Linked DNA regions of Homo sapiens. The protein of the gene in region 1 interacts with the protein of each later gene in a biochemical or structural test. Each region holds a gene or a part of one and is shown in the gene's direction. Other genes may lie near its edges.

Region 1 (3,243 bases):
CCCGGGCTCAAACTGTCCTCCTACCTTAGCCTCCCAAGTAGCTGGGACGACAGGCATGTGCTACCACACCTGGCCAATTTCTAAACTTTTTGTAGAGACAGAGTCTTACTTTGTTGCTCAGGCTGGTCTCGACCTCTTGAGCTCAAGCAATACTCCTGCTTTGACCTCCCAAAGTGCTGGAATTACAGGCCATCATGCCAGACCTAAAACATTTTTCATCTTGTAAAATTGAAATGGTACCCATTAAAGCAGGGGTCCCCAACTCCTGGTCCCCAGCCTGTTAGGAACTGGGCTGCACAGCAGGAGGTAAGTGGAGGGTGAATGAGCATTACCTGCTGAGCTCCACCACTTGTCAGATCAGCAGAGGCATTAGATTCTCATAGGAGCAATAACTATTGTGAACTGTGCATGTGAGGGATCTAGATTGTGCATTCCTTACGAGAATCTAACCTGAGGTGGAACAGTTTCATCCTGAAACCATCCCCCTCTCCACTCCTGTCCATGGAAAAATTGTCTTCCACAAAACCATTGCCTGGTGCCAAAAAGGCTGGAGACTGCTGCTTTAAACAATGACTCCCCATGACTCCCTTTCCCCAGGTCCTGGCAAACATCATTCTACTACTGTTTCTATGATTCTTTAGTACTTCGTAAGTGTAGAATCGTACCTTATTTGTCCTTTCCTGGCTGGCTTATTTCACTTAGAATAATATCTTTAATTTTCATCCATGTTGTAGCATGTGTCAGCATTTCCTCCTTTTTAATGCTGAATAATATTTGATAGTCTGGATATACTACATTTTGTTTATACATTCATCTGTCCATGGACACTTAGATTATTTCCACCTTTTGGCTGTTTATGCTGCTATAAACATAGGTATACTGTGGTAGAATATAGATATATCTGTCCATGGCCCTGCTTTCAGTTGTTTTGGGTATATACCCAGAGGTGGAATTCCTTGATCATGTAGTAATTCTATTTTTAATTTTTTGGGGGAATCTCGCCATACTGTTTTCCATAGTGACTACACTGCGTTATATTCCTACCTGTAGTGCAGAGGGGCTCCAATTTCTCCACATCCTCACATCCTTTTCAACTCTTGTTTTCTTCTGTTTTTTTTTTTTTTTTTTTTTTTTTTGGTTGTTGTTGTTGTTGTTTTGGTGTTTTAAATAATAGCCATCCCAACAGGTGTGAAGTGGTATCTCATTGTGGTTTTTATTTGCATGGTAAAGGATGTTGAGCATTTTTTTAATGTGCTTATTGGTCATTTGTATGTCTTTGGAGAAATCTCTATCCTTTGTTCATTTTTAAATATTGTTGAGTTTTAAGTTTTTTATATATTTTGGATACCAGTCCTTTATCAGATATATGATTTACAAATATTTTTTCCCATTTTTGGGTTATTTCACTTTCTTGATGGTATCCTTTGAAGCACAGTAGTATATTTTTGTGCTTCTATAGTAGTGTATAAAGTAGTATACTACACTACTCATTTGATTCTTTGCATATTTCCTTTTCTCAAACTAACAATTCTTGCTTTTAGTTTTAATCGCCTGGACCTGCCACCATACAAGAGCTATGAGCAACTGAAGGAAAAGCTGTTGTTTGCCATAGAAGAAACAGAAGGATTTGGACAAGAGTAACTTCTGAGAACTTGCACCATGAATGGGCAAGAACTTATTTGCAATGTTTGTCCTTCTCTGCCTGTTGCACATCTTGTAAAATTGGACAATGGCTCTTTAGAGAGTTATCTGAGTGTAAGTAAATTAATGTTCTCATTTAGATTTATCTCCCAGTGATTTCTACTCAGCGTTTCCAGAAATCAGGTCTGCAAATGACTAGTCAGAACCTTGCTTAACATGAGATTTTAACACAACAATGAAATTTGCCTTGTCTTATTCCACTAGTTTATTCCTTTAACAACAATATTTTATGTGTGTCAAAAGTCTCACTTGGGAGTAGTGTTTTTTTCTTTTAGACATTCTGCAGACATGCAGGGAAGTCCTTTGGTAACTGCAATATACAAGATTTTCCTATTAAGCCTCTTGGTAAGAGGCATTTGTTAAAAGTGCAAGCTTACTCCTGCTTCTGGGGATGTGAGCAAAATTCGGGCTTGTGTTCTCCCTCTCATTTTAGTCTGACTTGACTATTGTTTTTCCTTTCTGGCGCATGAATCCATACATCATTCCTGGAAGTGAGGCAAGACTCTTGCATCTCTACAAAGTAGTTTTGTCAATTTGAATTCAGGGAAAAGTTGGTCACAGCCTGCAAATGACTTCATTTGGAAGTCTGATTGTTTCAGTTGCCTGACAAATACTACACTTTACAAACAATGTTAACACTGTGATTCCTTCATTGTTTTAAGAAGTTAACCTAGGGCCGGGCATGGTGGCTCATACCTGTAATCCTAGCACTCTGGGAGGCCGAGGCAGGAGGATCCCTTTAGCCCAGGAGTTAAAGACCAGCCTGGGCAACATAGGGAGACCCTGTCTTTTTTTTGGGCAGCGTGGTGGGGGATAAATAAATAAAAGGAAAAAAAACTTAGCCTAGAATTAGAATTAATTTAATTGAATTCATCTAAAGATGTCTCTGGTGATTTTTATATGTTCCGCTATATAATTGATGCTTTATAGTTTTATCATAATCCAACAACTTCAGTTATATTTAATTATTGTTAAGGAGTTTAAGACTAGAAAGACTAGAGTGCTTTCTAGTCCAAATAGAGGTCAGTGAAACAGCTTTTGACATCAGATTTTCATTTGAGAGGGAGAGCTGTGGTACTGGCTAAAAAGAAAGGAAGATAACATCCAGTAACCACAGGAATATATTCTCTGTGAATTAAAAGTCTTCAAAGTTATCATTTCTCTGACATATGTTGGAGTAGTCATTTCCATTCTTTACATTGTCATGAACTGGATTGATAACCCTCATCTGCAATATTTTCACCCCTAAAATTTTTAACAGGGTTTCCTTTTTTTCTCACGACTATTTAAGTTTAGATTGCTCCATTATTAACTGATTAATGCACTTTGAAGTTCTCTGGAATTAATTATTTTAACTTGGCCTAGCTTCGACTGTCAAGGTGGCTGTTATAAATTTGACTTCATTGGCAGTGGATGAAGCCTAAGCCAGCTGAGTCTCTATCATAGCTGAACCCTGAGGACAGCCTCATAGCTCATGTATCAGGGACTTTTGCCACATTTCAGAGGCATAGCATGAACAAGTAATATTAAGCCAAGAATAAG
Region 2 (2,291 bases), on another chromosome or scaffold:
TCAAGCAGAGCCAGCAGTCGTGCCAGCAGCAGACCTCGGCCTGATGACCTGGAGATCTAGATACAGGCTTGAAAGCATCAAGATTCCACTCAATTGTGGAGAAGAAAAAAGGTGCTGTAGAAAGTGCACCAGGTGTTAATTTTGATCCGGTGGAGGTGGTACTCAACAGCCTTATTCATGAGGCTTAGAAAACACAAAGACATTAGAATACCTAGGTTCACTGGGGGTGTATGGGGTAGATGGGTGGAGAGGGAGGGGATAAGAGAGGTGCATGTTGGTATTTAAAGTAGTGGATTCAAAGAACTTAGATTATAAATAAGAGTTCCATTAGGTGATACATAGATAAGGGCTTTTTCTCCCCGCAAACACCCCTAAGAATGGTTCTGTGTATGTGAATGAGCGGGTGGTAATTGTGGCTAAATATTTTTGTTTTACCAAGAAACTGAAATAATTCTGGCCAGGAATAAATACTTCCTGAACATCTTAGGTCTTTTCAACAAGAAAAAGACAGAGGATTGTCCTTAAGTCCCTGCTAAAACATTCCATTGTTAAAATTTGCACTTTGAAGGTAAGCTTTCTAGGCCTGACCCTCCAGGTGTCAATGGACTTGTGCTACTATATTTTTTTATTCTTGGTATCAGTTTAAAATTCAGACAAGGCCCACAGAATAAGATTTTCCATGCATTTGCAAATACGTATATTCTTTTTCCATCCACTTGCACAATATCATTACCATCACTTTTTCATCATTCCTCAGCTACTACTCACATTCATTTAATGGTTTCTGTAAACATTTTTAAGACAGTTGGGATGTCACTTAACATTTTTTTTTTGAGCTAAAGTCAGGGAATCAAGCCATGCTTAATATTTAACAATCACTTATATGTGTGTCGAAGAGTTTGTTTTGTTTGTCATGTATTGGTACAAGCAGATACAGTATAAACTCACAAACACAGATTTGAAAATAATGCACATATGGTGTTCAAATTTGAACCTTTCTCATGGATTTTTGTGGTGTGGGCCAATATGGTGTTTACATTATATAATTCCTGCTGTGGCAAGTAAAGCACACTTTTTTTTTCTCCTAAAATGTTTTTCCCTGTGTATCCTATTATGGATACTGGTTTTGTTAATTATGATTCTTTATTTTCTCTCCTTTTTTTAGGATATAGCAGTAATGCTATTACTGAAATGAATTTCCTTTTTCTGAAATGTAATCATTGATGCTTGAATGATAGAATTTTAGTACTGTAAACAGGCTTTAGTCATTAATGTGAGAGACTTAGAAAAAATGCTTAGAGTGGACTATTAAATGTGCCTAAATGAATTTTGCAGTAACTGGTATTCTTGGGTTTTCCTACTTAATACACAGTAATTCAGAACTTGTATTCTATTATGAGTTTAGCAGTCTTTTGGAGTGACCAGCAACTTTGATGTTTGCACTAAGATTTTATTTGGAATGCAAGAGAGGTTGAAAGAGGATTCAGTAGTACACATACAACTAATTTATTTGAACTATATGTTGAAGACATCTACCAGTTTCTCCAAATGCCTTTTTTAAAACTCATCACAGAAGATTGGTGAAAATGCTGAGTATGACACTTTTCTTCTTGCATGCATGTCAGCTACATAAACAGTTTTGTACAATGAAAATTACTAATTTGTTTGACATTCCATGTTAAACTACGGTCATGTTCAGCTTCATTGCATGTAATGTAGACCTAGTCCATCAGATCATGTGTTCTGGAGAGTGTTCTTTATTCAATAAAGTTTTAATTTAGTATAAACATAGCTTCTATATTCCGTGTGATTTGTTTCCCCTGCCGAGATGGAGTCTTGCTCTGTCACCCAGGCTGGAGTGCAGTGGCGCGATCTCGTCTCACTGCAACCCTTGCCTCCCGGGTTCAAGCAATTCTCCTGCCTCACCCTCCCGAATAGCTGGGATTACAGGCACCGCCACCGCACCTGGCTAATTTTTGTATTTTTAGTAGAGATGGGGTTTCACCATGTTGGCCAGGCTGGTCTGGAACTCCTGACCTCGTGATCCGCCCACCTCAGCCTCCCAAAGTGTTGGGATTACAGGGGTGAGCCACCGCACCTGGCCTATATTTAAAACTCATTGACGGCATCTATTTGAGATTATTTAAACACATTTCTATTGGTTATCAGAACTTCAGCAAATAACAGTCATGTTTTCAGGGACAATATTTATCATTAGCTCTGTTCAGTGCAACATAAATTGTAAACATTTTTGGATATTTATTGAACCAAAAGGAAGATAAAGTGTTGAA
Region 3 (3,743 bases), on another chromosome or scaffold:
TACTTCTGTGGCCTAATTTTTTTTTTTTTTTTTTTTTTTTTTTTTTGAGACGGAGTCTCGCTCTGTTGCCCAGGCTGGAGTGCAGTGGCGCGATCTCAGCTCACTGCAAGCTCCGCCTCCTGGGTTCACGCCATTCTCTTGCCTCAGCCTCCTGAGTAGCTGGGACTACAGGCGTCTGCCACCACGCCCGGCTAATTTTTTGTATTTTTAGTAGAGACGGGGTTTCACCATGTTAGCCAGGATGGTCTCAATCTCCTGACCTCGTGATCCGCTGGCCTCGGCCTCCCAAAGTGCTGGGATTCAGAAAAACTCTTTTTTTTTTTTGGAGACAAGAGTTTCGCTTTTGTTGCCCAGGCTGGAGTACAATGGTGTGATCTCGGCTCACCGCAACCTCCGCCTCCCGGGTTCAAGTGATTCTCCTGTCTCAGCCTCCCGAGTAGCTGGGATTACAGGTGCGTGCCACCACGCCCGGCTAATTTTTGTATTTTTAGTAGAGATGGGGTTTCATCATATTGGTCAGGCTGGTCTCGAACTCCTGACCTCAAGTGATCTGCCTGCCTCGGCCTCCCAAAGTGCTGGGATTACAGGCGTGAGCCACTGCACCTGGCCAGAAAAACTCATTTCTACATTTCCCATAGGTTGTTTAAATTGTTATTATTAAAGGAAAGCTCATCTCAAAGCTTCCTCAACAACAAAGCCTTTTATCTTCCACCCCACCTCCCACGCATTCACTGCCCAAATATACCAAGTTTCTCTTTTCTTTTTTCTTTTTTTTTTTTTTTTTGAGATGGAGTTTTGGTCTTGTTGCCCAAGCTGGAGTGCAATGGCACAATCTCGGTTCACCACAACCTCCACCTCCCAGGTTCAAGTGATTCTCCTGCCTCAGCCTCTCGAGTAGCTAGGATTACAGGCATGCACCACCACGCCTGGCTAATTTTGTATTTTTAGTAGAGATGGGTTTTCTCCATGTTAGTCAGGCTGGTCTCGAACTCCTGACCTCAGGTGATCTGCCCGCCTTGGCTTCCCAAAGTGCTGAGGTTACAGGCGTGAGCCACCACGCCCGGCTCTCTTCTTTTTGTTTTTTGTTTTTGTTTTGAGATGGAGTCTCGCTCTGCCGCCCAGGCTGGAGTGCAGTGGCGTGATCTCAGCTCACTGTAACCTCTGCCTCCCGGGTTCAAGGGATTCTCCTGCCTCAGCCTCCTGAGTAGCTGCGATTACAGGTGCCACCACGCCCAGTTAATTTTTGTATTTTTAGTAGAGATGGGGTTTCATCATACTGGCCAGGCTGGTCTTAAACTCTTGACCTTGTGCTCTGCCTGCCTCAGCCTCCCAAAGTGCTGGGATTACAGATGTGAGCCACCATGCCTGGCCTCTCTCTTCTTTTATCTGTAGTAACTTTTTACATGCCTTATGGTATCTAACCATAAGGCAGTGTGTTAGAATATAATATTTTGTATTAATTTTATTTTAAAAATATTTTATATTGATAATGGTTACATATATATTCATATAGTTTCTATGTGTCTAAATTTGGGTTGTATATGTAAGATTTTTGCACTTTATATAGTTATACCTCCAGTTTTTTAAAAATATAAATCTTAAGTCGTGTGTGGTAGCACACCCTAGAGTCCCAGCTATGGGACTACTGAGGTGTGAGGATCACTTGAGGCCAGGAGTTAGTGGCTGCAGTGCACCATGGTTGTCTTATGCATAATCACTGCACTACAGCCTAGGTAACATAGTGAGACTCCCATCTCTAAAGACAGAAAGAAGTTAAATAAATAAATAAATCTTACCTTCCATGTTAGGCTAAGTCCAAGAGATAAGTCACTGTATTTTACCTAACTTTATCTTTTCTATTGAATTGTGTTCTGTATTGCACATGGTGGGCAATCCATATGTGTATGAATTAACCTAAATGTACTTGTGGATTAAGTTGTGTTAAGTTTATGAAGCAAAATATAATAGCCATAGTGGGAAGTCATTCTAACCATACCTTGAGGATGTTAACATTTGCTGCGAGGCATATTTTTGGTTTATATAAGTCATGGTTATTGACATAGCATCTATCTGAGTAGATATTAAGCAAGGTTAGATATTTTTTCTTCCTTTTTATGTACTCTAGGTACACAGATATATCTGAAAACAAAGGGATATATATTTGGCTGCTTCTAAGACAATTGAGTCTTGATTTATTATGTTTGTCTTTTTTTTTTTAAGATGGAGTCTCATTGTGTTGCCCAGGCCGGAGCACTATCTTGGCTCACTGCAACCTCCGCCTCCCGGGTTCAAGCGATTCTCCTGCCTCAGCCTCCTGAGTAGCTGGGATTACAGGCGCGTGCCACCACGCCCGGCTAATTTTTGTCTTTTGTTTTTGTTTTTTTGAGACGGAGTCTCCCTCTGTTGCCCAGGATGGAGTGCATTGGCGCGATCTTGGCTCCCTGCAACCCCCACCTCCCAGGTTCAAGCGATTCTCCTGCCCCAGCCTCCTGAGTAGCTGGGATTACAGGGGAGTGCTACCACGCCCGGCTAATTTTTGTATTTTTAGTAGAGACGGGGTTTCACCATGTTGTTCAGGCTGGTCTCGAACTCCTGACCTTGTGATCTGCCCACCTTGGTCTCCCAAAGTGCTGGGATTACAGGCGTGAGCCACCGCGCCCAGCCAATTTTTGTATTTTTGGTAGAGATGGGGTTTCGCCATGCTGGTCTCAAACTCCTGACCTCAGGTGGTCCACCCGCCTTGGCCTCCCAAGTGCTAGGATTACAGGCGTGAGACACCGCGCCCAGCCCCAGTCAATTTTTTATCAGGATTGTACTATAGGAATAGTAAGTCTTCTCACTAGAAAATATACCTTGGAGATTGGTCGAAATAAATATTATATTTTAATGTTCCTAAGTAAACATAGGGATCGTTTGTTTCATCAGGATTGTTCTATAGGAATAGTAAGTCTTCTCACTAGAAAATATACCTTGGAGATTGGTCAAAATAAATACTTTTAAAATGCTTAATTATTATTTATCTTTGATGTTGAACATAAAAAGCAGAATTGTTTTCTCCTTTGATGAAGAAACAGTTTCTAGGAATAAAGGAAACTTTAGAACCGATGTCCCTTTTTGTACATCACTTTTTGAGTATTTACTGAATGTAATGTTTGTGTCTTGTAGAATGGAGATGTATGCATTTCGATTCTTCATCCGCCTGTAGATGACCCACAGAGTGGAGAACTGCCTTCTGAAAGGTGGAATCCTACTCAGAATGTGAGGTAAGGAGGAATCTGGTTTTGGAGTTATTCTTAATCTCCTTATTGTCTTTGCTCCTAGTAAAATAAAATTATGTATTGTCTTTTAACATGTAAAAAATCATCTTTCTTATATTCAGTTTCTTTGTCTTTAGCTAGAGCTTTAAGAAATATGTATGCGTCATTTTGAAGAGCTGTATTTACTAAACAATAATGTATATGATTCTCATTTCCCTATGTTCACTTAGGAATAGATTTTCAAGCCTGAATCCCTACTCTTAACTTATCCTAGTTCTACTCTGGTTCTTTATTACCACCTAACATTAGTGTCATTCATTGGTTGCAGTTAATAAACAATGTTAATTCATTATAAGTAACTGAAGTCCATACGCTTTCACATTTCCTTTGTTTTTACCTGTCGTTGTTTTGCTCCAAAATATTTCATACATATAAATATATATCTATATATGTACGTGTATACATATATGTATTTAAATTTTTTGT

Evidence for each region.
Region 2: the proteins of ITCH (region 1) and GJA1 interact in a test that uses a peptide from one of them, tested with the Homo sapiens proteins (one large-scale study listed by BioGRID).
Region 3: the proteins of ITCH (region 1) and UBE2R2 form a complex in vitro, tested with the Homo sapiens proteins (one study listed by BioGRID).

What each region holds. Positions count from the first base shown.
Region 1 is NC_000020.11:34,506,154-34,509,396, forward strand, and holds part of ITCH (E3 ubiquitin-protein ligase Itchy homolog), read left to right. Parts: intron 1-1,541; coding exon 1,542-1,641; 3' UTR 1,642-3,243. UniProt on the Homo sapiens protein: Acts as an Acts as an E3 ubiquitin-protein ligase which accepts ubiquitin from an E2 ubiquitin-conjugating enzyme in the form of a thioester and then directly transfers the ubiquitin to targeted substrates.
Region 2 is NC_000006.12:121,447,937-121,450,227, forward strand, and holds the end of GJA1 (gap junction alpha-1 protein), read left to right. Parts: coding exon 1-60; 3' UTR 61-1,791; downstream 1,792-2,291. UniProt on the Homo sapiens protein: Gap junction protein that acts as a regulator of bladder capacity. A gap junction consists of a cluster of closely packed pairs of transmembrane channels, the connexons, through which materials of low MW diffuse from one cell to a neighboring cell.
Region 3 is NC_000009.12:33,897,009-33,900,751, forward strand, and holds part of UBE2R2 (ubiquitin-conjugating enzyme E2 R2), read left to right. Parts: intron 1-3,165; coding exon 3,166-3,263; intron 3,264-3,743. UniProt on the Homo sapiens protein: E2 ubiquitin-conjugating enzyme that accepts ubiquitin from an E1 ubiquitin-activating protein, and catalyzes its covalent attachment to other proteins by an E3 ubiquitin-protein ligase complex.